Regions from separate parts of the Homo sapiens genome. Here region 1 is linked to region 2. The links come from fine-mapping of genetic effects on gene expression. A gene starts in region 2. The other region holds a variant in brackets. All regions are shown on one strand. Distances are from middle to middle. Region 1 overlaps CYTH1 (cytohesin 1). Region 2 holds the start of CYTH1 (cytohesin 1).

Region 1 (5,361 bases), 110 kb before region 2:
GCTCTGACACACGCTACAGGGATGAGTCGTGTAAACGTAACGCTAAGTGAAAGAAGCCAAACGCGAAGGCCCATGTAGTGTATGATTCCATTTGTATGAAATGCCCAGAAGAGGCAAGTGCATAGACAGAACCATTAGGACTGCCCGGGACCAGGGGAAGAGGAGGAGAGGCTGCTGATGAGTAGACAGGGTGTGCTTTGGGGTGATGAACTGTTCTCAAATGGATTTTATTGGCGTTTTAATAACTTCGTGGATGTATTACTATTGCAGGATTTTTCCTTAGTTCAGCTAAACACCTCTTAAAGGTCCTACCTTTTCATACTGTAACAATGGCAGTTACATTTCAACATGAGTTTTGGAGGGAACAGATATTCACACTGTAGCTTTCTGCCACTGGTTCCCCCACACTCGCCAGTCTCAGTACAAAACGCATTCATTCCATCCCGACTGCCCCAAAAGTCCTAACTTGCTCCAGCACCAATTCAAAAGTCCAAAGTCCAGAGTCTCCTCTAGATCAGATATGAGTGAGACTCAAGGAACAATTCATCCTGAGGCAAATCCCCTCCAGCTGAGAGCCTCGAAATTTAACAAGTTATGCACTTCCAAAATACACTGGGGGACAGGCATGAGATAGACATTCCCATTCCAAAAGGGAAAAAAGGGCAAGAAGGAAAGAATAACCAATCCCAAGTAAGTCTGAAACCCAATAGGGCAGACATTAAATCTTAAGACTCCAGAATGATCTCTGACTCATCTTAATGTGATCCCCCAAGGCCAGGAGCAGCCCCACCCTGTGCTGGGTTCTGCCCATGCCGCAGCTGTCACAGGATGGCATCTAGTGCCTACATACAGCTCTCCCGGCTGGGGCGGCAAGCTGGTGGTCCCACAGTTCTGGAGCCTTGGGAGTGGCCCCGTTCCCATGGCTCAGCTAGGCATTATGAAGTCATGTTACCAGCCAATAAATGTAATCTCTCTTCTTTCCTATCTGGATGCCTTTCATTTCTTGCCTAATTGCCCTGACTAGAACCTCCAGTACAATGCTGAATAGAAGTGGTAAGAGTGGACATCTCTGTCTTGTTCCTGAGCTTAGGGAGTTTTCAAATGAGATGGGCGTTTCTGTGGTTTGAGGGAAAGAAATTAATGGGGAAAGAAACTGGGGATATGTATAAGACAAAGGATAATTGACAGAGATGGATCCAGGGGAGACAGGAAAAAAGCAGGCCACTTCTTCTGGCGATGGGAGGGAACAAAAACAACTCTGACTGATGTGGAAAGGTAGGAATGCTGCCCTTCACACCTAATGGTCGTCTCTTCTCAGTAAAGTGGGGCAGTCACCTGGGGAATGGTCAGGGTAGACTGGGGGCTTGAAGCAAGGAGGAAACATCAGGCATGACTGCTGCTGTGTGGAAGAACGCGGACCAGCCCGTGGAGATGGACCCACAGAAGGGGCCAGCCTGGTGCTTTGCTGTCTCTCTGTTCGGTGCTGGTTCACCAAGCGCCTTCCCCTGCTTCTGGGTTCTAGCCCACCTGAGACTTTTCCCTGTTTATTCCCTGGCATTATGAAGTCATCTCTGGAAACTGAAATCATACTAAAAATGTATTATATTGACTGAAGGCATATTTCTTGATCTTAATTTAAAACTGATGTTTCACGTTTCTTCTAAAAAAGTGGGGGCGGTGCAAAGACTAAGTTACTTATCTTTTCTGACTCTGCTCTTCTTAACAGAAGACAGAACCCTCCTCCCACTTTCAAGGTGTTACAACTGAACTCAAGGTGCAGCTGGAGTAACACCCTCCTGCACAAGTGTCCGGTCAGCACCCCTTTCCCACCTCGAGGGCCCCGCCTGAGCCCAGAGACACCGCGAACAACAAAGATGGCTTGGGCAGAGTTGGAGTTTATTTGCTGCAGTTCCTTGGCGCTAGTTTACAAGGCAAAAACAAACAAACAAAAACAATTAGAATAATTATTTCTTAAAAACCCTGTCAACAACTTTCAGTCATTTCTTTATATTTTTGTATTTTGACAAAACTTCTTTTAAACAAATACAAAATAATCTAAAAGGAGAAAAACTATACATAGATTATTTACACCTCTGATAAATAGACTAATACTGACCCAGGTGCCTCTCTGTCTAGGAAACACTTGAGAACCAGGCCAGGGCCCGGGCCAGCTGGACAGGCTCCAGCACCGGCCCAAACACGCCCAGACCTCGGCAGGCACCACCTGGTTCTCCCACCCAGAAAGTTCAGGTTTCCAGCCTGGACCCTCTTCTGTCACCCTCACAAGCTCTGGCACAAAAGTGCCTAAAGCCATTCCCTCCAGGTAGGATCTACACAAAGTGGCGGGGAGGGAGGTGACAGACTGTCCCCCTCTATTCCTCCCACCACTCCTCTGCAAAAGCTATTTCCAGAGATGCTCGCCAACCCTAAAGGATCAGAGGAGCCGTGGCGACGCGGCCCTGTGAAAACCCGCAGCTCCTCCACCTGCCTCCTCAGGGCTGCGCCCTGCACCGCCCTGGTCCAGGGTCCTGTGGAGGGGCGGGGCGAGACGGCCAG[A/C]CAGCCAGCCACCTGCTCTGCCTGGACTGGCATGCTGGCCCTGGCGGAGTGGCAGGAGCTGCCCTGAGAGTCCCTGAGAGAACGGCAGGAAAATGCTGCGTGTCACGGCTCCCTTCATACTGTAATGAGGAGGGGCAGGGCCAGCTCACACAGCGCCTGCAGGGGAAGACAGAGATGCGAGAGGCAGCCCGGCCACCCCCCTCACTCCAGTGCACCCCACGGAGCAGATAAAGGCCCATCTTCCCCTCTAGGGGGCCCACCACAAAATGCATCCAGAGTAGTCCAGTTAGGGCTGGTTTTGAGGCAGAAAAAGCTGAAGCCCTACGGGGATCGGGGAAGTCCTACTCCTTCCTCTAGAACGAGGACTGGAGTCTGGGGAAGAGGAAGAAAACCCAAAATGAAACAGGTTATCCGGAACCTCTGTCCCGATAACCTTCCTCACAGTTTTGGTTATTAGGTATTTAGCTCAAGGAAAATGCTGACTTTCTACTTTAAAGCCCAACAAGAACTTGGATTCTGAAGGAGGAAAATAACGTAAGCGTCCAGTCAGCTCTCTCCTCTCCTCGGCGCTCCGCAGGCACTTGGGATGGAAAAGCATCCGCGGGAGATGCCGGACTGCACGCTGCTGCCGACTGCGACCCCGGCCAGGGCAGGCCCCCGACTCTGACTGTGCCGTCTGAGGCTCCACTGGGCCTCTGCCCTCTGCGTCCTCGACCTCACCTGTCCATCTCGCCCAGACAAGCACCAGGCAGCGAGCTCCCACAGCACAGGAGAGGCAGGCCAGGCCCTGCCGCGGGCCCAGGCTGATGCCCCTTGGCCGCAGCCCCAGGTGCTCTTCTCCAGGGAGAAGCTCCCCAGCGCAGCCAGGGCAGAATGCACCTGAACAGCCCTACGTTCTCTCTTAAAAAAAAAAAAATAGATCTTTATAGTATGTGGCTTCTCTTCCTTTCCACCTTTTTCTCTTAACATATAATAATATATGGACACATGTATTTATGGTGCAGGGTTTGAAGGCTTCTTCACGGGGACAACCAAGAGGTAAACAGTTGGCTCTGAGCTCTGCTACCAGAACACTGAGCAGAGAAACTGGCCAGGAGGCTGCCCTGCCGACAAGAGCTCTGCCCTGTGAGAGAGGAAGGCTCTGGAGCCCATGCTGGACAGGTGGCCGGTCCTCTCTTCCCCAGTGATAACTGCCCACCCTTCTCCCACTTAAAAAAAATAGCAAAAGCTGAAGCTAGTCTCTAGGAATCCAGGGCGGGGCCTGGCAGAGGACGCTCTGCTCGGCAGCAGTGCATCCATGGAGGTGCGGGAGAAGAGCAGGAGCTCCAAGGCCCCCGCAGACCAACGCCCTTGGCTGCACGCTCAGTGTCGCTTCGTGGAGGAGACCTTCTTTTTCCGTGCTGCGAGCATTTCGTAGAAAGGGTCCCTGCTGATGGCTGCTCTGGAGCACAGAAAAGGGAGAAAACAGAGACGTGAGGGACAGAATCAGAAGAAACACACCCAGGCAGGGGATTCTCAGGGGCCCCTCGTGCCCCAGAACACCTGTCCCACCCCACCATCACTGCAAAGGCCAAGTTAGCGTCCTCCACCCTTGCTGTGTCCACACAGTGACCTAAGGTGACACACTTCGAAAGAGACACAGGAACACGTGACAAGAAAATTTTGGGGTTTTTACCTGTTTCAACATAATAATCAATTCACATTTAGGAACAGAATCATACCACATTCTTACAGCTATATTCCAATTCAGAGAAAAAGACTGGTGCTTGAGTTTCCATGATGACATCTGACTTTGCTTTGCAGCAGCGAGTGCCACGTAATCAAGCCGTGTCACATGCAGTCCTCTGGCACGGGGTGTGTGATAGCTGGCATGGTAATGCAGTGGGGCCTTCCAAGCCCCCCACGTGCACCTGCTCAGTAACTAAGGCTCCATGACTCTGCAGGCGGCACTGCCCAGCACGATGCTGCTGGTGGGGCACCATGGACAGACCGGCTGGACCTGGCTGGGTCTCCGGTGCACAGGGAGGGGGCCCGAGCTCATGCTTGTGCTACAGCCTCAAAGACAGCAGCGCAGGCCGCGCCGCGGGCTGGAGCACCTGCAGTGGACTGGCAACACCACAACCCTATGTCTGCCATTCTCGACTTTCAAGCAACTTATGGTCTAAAAGTCCTGACACTTAATTTCTTTCCAGGGAAGCTGTATCCTAAGTGATGATTTGTTCCAGAGCTCGGGCACAAGCCTCCTGACTGCAGGCAGGGCACTCACCCCTGCTGAACGGTGGCACCAGCAGCTGCTATGGCTCTCCTGGGCTGACCTGGAACCTATTCACAAGAGACAGTGTGTCCATGAGAAAATGCTTCCGCAGCTCCCCGGGGAATGCTAGGAACTGAAGAGCACTAGAAACATGTCCCGATGGGATCTCACTGGGAAGCGGTCTGACCACCTGAAGTGCTTTCACGAGGGAATCTGGCGGCCGGGACACCTGCTTTCATGTTTGGAGGTGTTGGGGTGAATCTCCCTTGGCTTCCTGGGTAGGCCAACCCTTTCGGGTAAGCTGGGGGGTTCTGCAGAGAGGTGCGTGTGGCACTGCCCTGTGTGCAGAGGCAGAGTGTCAGGCGATGAGGGGGGCTGGGCTGCGGTCGGACACCAGGCCCCAGGCCCGGCCCTGCCTGGCCCTGCCTGCTGCTTCTCAACTCCCGCTTCCTCACATGCAAGCTGGAGATGCCCCACCTCCACCTCCCTGGGTTCCGGAGAGTCAAAAAGAGATCCCATATTCAAAGAGCACATCTCAGCGCCTAGCCGAC
Region 2 (5,361 bases):
AGGCAGGCAGATCACCTGAGGTCAAGAGTTTGAGACCAGCCTGGACAACACAGAGAAACCCTGTCTCTACTAAAAATACAAAATTAGCCAGGCGTGGTGGCGCATGCCTGTAATCCCAGCTACTCAGGAGGCTGAGGCAGGAGAATCGCTTGAAGCTGGGAGGCAGAGGTTGCAGTGAGCCGAGATTGCGCCATTGCACTCCAGCCTGGGCAACAAGAGTGAAACTCCATCTCAAAAAAAAAAAAAAAAAAAAAAAGAAAGGGGAAGAATAAACTTACAAACTTTCTCATCTTCGTGTGTGGCAGACAGAATAACAGCCCCTAAAGAAGTCCGGGTACTAATCCCCAGAACTTGTGAATAGGTTACCTTACATGGCAGAAGGGGAATTAAGGTAACAGATGGAATTAAGGTTGCTAATCCTTAGCCTTGATTATCCAGGTGGGTCCCACTATAATCACAAGGATCTTAATAAGAGGGAGGTAGGAGGTCGAGAGAAATGAGAAGATGCTACCTGCTGGCTTTGAAGATGGAAAGGGGACTATGAACCATGGAACACAGGTGGCCTCTAGAAGCTGGAAAAGGTAAGGAAATGGGTTCTCCCCTGAGCCTCCAGAAAGAACCAGCCTGTCCGACACCTTGGCTTTAGCCCAGTGAGACCTATTTTGGACTTCTGACAGCAGAACCCTAAAACAAATGTTATGTTGTTTTGAGCCACCAGGCTTGTGGTAATATAACAGGTATAGGAAACTAACACGCCCTGCTTCCACTTACCTCTTTCAAGTACAAGTTCATGTCATGCCTGGTGGCAAAGCAGTCACTGTATTAAAAGCAACCAGACCAATAGCTTCCTGCCCACGGCAGCAGGCAAGAACACAAGAGAGGCCACAAAAGCCTGGTAGGCAGGACACTGGGATCTGAGGGAAATTAAATGGCAAGAGGAGGCAGAGAAAAGAGCAGCAGGCAAAACTGCTGTCGGCTTCTCAGCAGTGGGCAGGAGTGAAATCTGGAGGGGCTGAACAATCTTTTGGGGCCAGCCAGTGGGTGATTTTTCTTTTAATCACAAAAGGAGGCTGGGAGCAGTGGCTCATGCCTGTAATCCCAACACTTTGGGAGGCCAAGATAGGAACTGGAGTTCACACCAGCCTAGGCAACATAGGGAGACCTCCCTCTCTACAAAAAGAAATAAAAATAATTAGCAGGGCGTGGTAGCCCAGGCCTGTAGTCCAGGTTACAGGAGGGGCTGAGAAGAGAGGTGAGAGGATTGCTTGAGCCAAGGAAGCAGAGCGTGCAGTGAGCTATGAGAGCGCCCCTGCACTCCAGCCTGCGCAAGAGAGCTAGACCCTGTCTCAAAAACACAACAAAACAAACAACAAAAAAATGCACAAGCTGCTTTTACTTGTTTACTTATAAGGTAACAAGTGGGCTGGGTGTGGTGGCTCAGGCCTGTAATCCCAACACTGTGCGAGGCAGAGGTGGGAGGACTGCTTGGGTCTAGGAGTTCAAGACCAGCCTGGGTAACATGGCAAGACCCCATCTTTTAAAAAAGTAAAAAATTAGGGCTGGGCGCGGTGGCTCATGCCTGTAATCCCAGCACTTTGGGAGGCCGAGGCGGGTGGATCACCTGAGGTCAGAAGTTCAAGACCAGCCTGGCCAACATGGCAAAACCCTGTCTCTACTAAAAATACAACAATTAGACAGGCGTGGTGGCACGCGCCTGTAGTCCCAGCTACTCAGGAGCCTGAGGCAGGAGAATCGCTCAGCTCACCCAGGAGGCCGAGGTTGCAGTGAGCCGAGATGGCGCCACTGCACTACAGCCTGGGCGACAGAGTGAGACTCCGTTTCAAAAATAAAATAAAATAAAATAAAATAATAAAATAAAATAAAATAAAAAATTAGCCGGGCATGGTGGCGTGCGTATGGTTCCAGCCACTCAAGAGGCTGACGTGAGCTACGATCACGCCACTGTGCTCCAGCCTGGGTGACAGAGCGAGATCTCGTCTCTTAAAAAAAAAAAAAAAAGAAAAATGTCCCATTAGTTATTAAACTAGAATTGGGTTCCATTTGGCCACAGAGTTCTGCTTTATTTGTACTTTGCTACCAAACCACAAAAGTTCACCACTTGTTCTATTTGCCATTCTTCCTTTTAATTCCTCATGAACAAACTTAATAAATTAACTACAGCATGTCAAACAACCTTTTGCAACCCTTGCAATTTCAAACTCTTGGAGGGAGGCACCCCTGGCCTGGGCCAGCAGCCTCAACGCGCGGGAGCGAAGGGAGCGGGACAGCGGCTCCGCTTGCCAAGTCCCCAGTCAGGGGAGGAGCGGCGTCCCCACCGCGGTGCCCCTCGGGCTCCACACCCGCGTCTCGGCAGGCGGCGACGCACCGGACCGGCGGCTACCGGGCCCAGACTCCCGCGGGCAGGGCCGTCCCGGAGCCCGCGCCTCGCCGGCGGCGCCGCTCCCCGTTCTCATTTCTGAACAAAGACGTGGACCGGGCACAACTCGCTGACGCCGAGAGCGGCCGGAAACTGCGGGGAACGCGGGCCCGGCCATCCGCGCGTCCGCCCCGAGCCCCGCAGAGGGGCGGCAGGGCCAGCGACCTCCACCCCTCGGCCCCCCGGGACCCGGACTGCGACCCCTGCCCCGGGGACCCCAGCGACCCCAACGACTCTCATCCCTCAGAGCCCCTGAGATCCTGCCCCGCGACCCCAACGACCCTCATTCCTCAGAGCTCGCGGCGACCCCTGGCCCCGCGAGACCGCGAGCCCGGCCTGTGACCCCCGCCCCAGCCACCCACATCCCTCAGCGCCGCCAGCGACCCCGGCCCCGGCGACCCTCATCCCTCAAAACCCCCTGCGACCCCCGCCCCGCGAGGGCCCCGCGCACCGCTCGCCCGCCGGTCGCCCCGGGCTCCGCGTCCCGCACCAGTGTCCCCGGGAAACGCCAGCCGCCGCAAGCGCTGCCGGACGGCCGGGCCCGGAGGGGACTGGGGGACAGCGAGGGGGAAGCGTCCGCCGCCGGGGCGCACTGACCGTAGCTGTCGTCCTCCTCCATGGTGCGGGAGCCGGGCTCCGCGCTCCGGCTCGCCGCTCGCGTCCCGCCGCGCCACCCGCGCCCCCGCTCGCCTCAGCCCGGCTCGGAGCCCCGCCCCCGGCGCCCCGCGCCCCGCGCCCCGCCCGCCCGCGCCTGCGCCTGCGCCCGCCCCCTGCCCCCGGCCCGAGGCCCCGCCCCTCGCCCGAGGCCCCGCCTTCCTCCCGCGCGCGCCGCACCCCGGGTACCCGGCCTCCTCCCGAGGCTCCGGCCTGCGCACGCGCGTCCACCCGAGGCTCCTCCCCTGCCCCCGCCTCTAGACCACGCCCCCGTCCCGAGACACACACACCCCCCCCCCTTCTCCCGGTCCGCCTCCTGGGGCCGAGCAGGTTTCGGTTTCTGAAGGGCGGTGCAAGTCCCCGGGGTGGCGGACTCGACCTGGCCTGCAGCCAGGCTACTGCACGAAAGCCCAAGGTCGTGTCCGGCCACTGAAGGGCAGGGTGGTCCTTGCTGACGCCAACCTGGAAGGTCAGACCCGGCCCCAGCTTGCCAGGGAGGGCCCGGTCCTTGGCGAAAGGCCACAAAAGCTATTTGAAGTCATTTACTCCTGCGTTCAGAACCTTTACATGCTGTATGTCCTAAGTTTACTGCTTCTACTTCTTTTTATTTGTCCTGAGTTTTACCTGGGTCAAGATTGAAAGGAGGGCACTTCAAGTCCCAGCGTTTTGGATTTTATTTATTTATTGGAGACGAGTTTCGCTCTTGTTGCCCAGGCTGGAGTGCAGTGGCCCGATCTCGGCTCACTGAAACCTCCGCCTCCCGGGTTCAAGCGATTGTCCTGCCTCAGCCTCCTGAGTAGCTGTGATTACAGGCATGTGCCACCAGGCCCGACTAATTGTATTTTTAGTAGAGACGGGGTTTCGCCATGTTGGCCAGGCTGGTCTCGAACTCCTGACCTCAAATAATCCGCCTGCCTCGGCCTCCCAAAGTGCTGGGATTACAGGTATGAGCCACCGCGCTCGGCCTTCTCTTTCTTTATGACAGAGGACAATCCCACTGCTGCAGAATGCCAGCACCAGAACCCCCCTTTCCCCCTGCAGTCACTTGTGGCTCCTGCACCCTACACAGAACACTCACTGAGAACTCCACAGAGATCCCTGGACTGCTGGGAATTTTTTGGACCAACCAAAAAACGGGAGTAAAAGCCACAGAACTCTTTCCTTGTGGGCCCACCTGTCCTGAGTTTTACTATTTTTCTTTTTCTTTTATTTATTTATTCATTTTGAGACAGAGTCTCACTCGCTGTGTTGCTCAGGCTAGAGTACGGTGGCACCATCATGACTCCCTGCAACCTCTGCTTCCCAGGCTCAAGCAGTTCTCCCACCTCAGCCTCCTGAGTAGCTGAGACTGCAGGCACCGGCCACCATACCTGGTTAATTTTTGTATTTTTTGTAGAGACGGAGGTTGCTAGGTTGCCCAGGCTGGTCTCGAACTCCTAGGCTCAAGTGATCCTTTCTCTTTGGTCTCCTTCCTTGGCCTCCCAAAGTACTGGAATTACAGGCGTGAGCCACCACGCCTGGCTGGATTCATGATCTTAACCTTCACTGACTTTACCAGATTGTCCAGTTTTACAGGTGACCTTAGAGAGTCACATTTTGGCCCTAACGTGTCCTTGGGCTTCGGCGTGTGAGGTCAGAGACCCAGCTGCATTTTGTTCCTCTTGGCCTAGACTTAGGACACTTTTAGAATTGACCCCACATTGACCTGGCAAATCTTCTCAAACCATCTGTCACATGGGCTAATGGAGCACTGAGCCTCTCCCCCAGTATTTGCCATCCTCTGTTTCACTCCCTACTTCACTTCTAACCCCAGACTCACCAGAAGGTTCAAGGTATCTTCGAGCTGGCTTTCTTCCCTTATCAGTATGCAAGTCCCAGACCACCTCAGCTCTTGCTCAAAGACCAGAACTCCAGAAGAAAAGCGATTCAGATGGCATGTTAATTCTTACTATCAGCACTCTAGACCTCTTAGCTGAACTCACCAACTGAATAGATTTGGAGAGGGAGGGATACTGGTATTACTGCTAATCACAGATTAGCAGAGAACATGACTGTTTACAAATTCTGTTCCCTTATATTGTTCCATTAGACTGGTGTTTTTCAGCTGGGTGAAGTGGTTCATGCCTATAACCCCAGTACTTTGGGAGGCCAAGCTAGGAAAACTGCTTCAGGGCAGGAGTTCAAGACCAGCGCGAGTAACATAGAGAGACCCTGTCTCTACAAAAAATTAAAAATTGTCGAGCATAGCGGCACACGCCTGTAGTCCTAGC

The links. PIP is the estimated chance that this variant, and not a neighbour inherited with it, causes the effect.
Region 1: its variant is fine-mapped to the expression of CYTH1 in whole blood (TOPMed, PIP above 0.99).

Annotation. Positions count from the first base shown.
Region 1 is chr17:78,672,173-78,677,533 of GRCh38, forward strand. It overlaps CYTH1 (cytohesin 1), which reads right to left. Exons shown (of 14, transcript NM_004762.6): 14 at 1,876-3,997. The coding sequence ends at 3,919. Among named protein-coding and RNA genes, the nearest start is that of SCAT1, 43 kb to the left of the region's middle. RefSeq lists enhancers at 2,887-3,765, 4,029-4,530, 4,531-5,030. The variant A/C (reference allele first, on the strand shown) is at 2,557.
Region 2 is chr17:78,779,168-78,784,528 of GRCh38, forward strand. It overlaps CYTH1 (cytohesin 1), which reads right to left and starts at 3,106. Exons shown (of 14, transcript NM_004762.6): 1 at 3,035-3,106. The coding sequence starts at 3,056. RefSeq lists an enhancer at 1,108-1,207 and silencers at 2,226-2,625, 2,886-3,165, 3,206-3,365.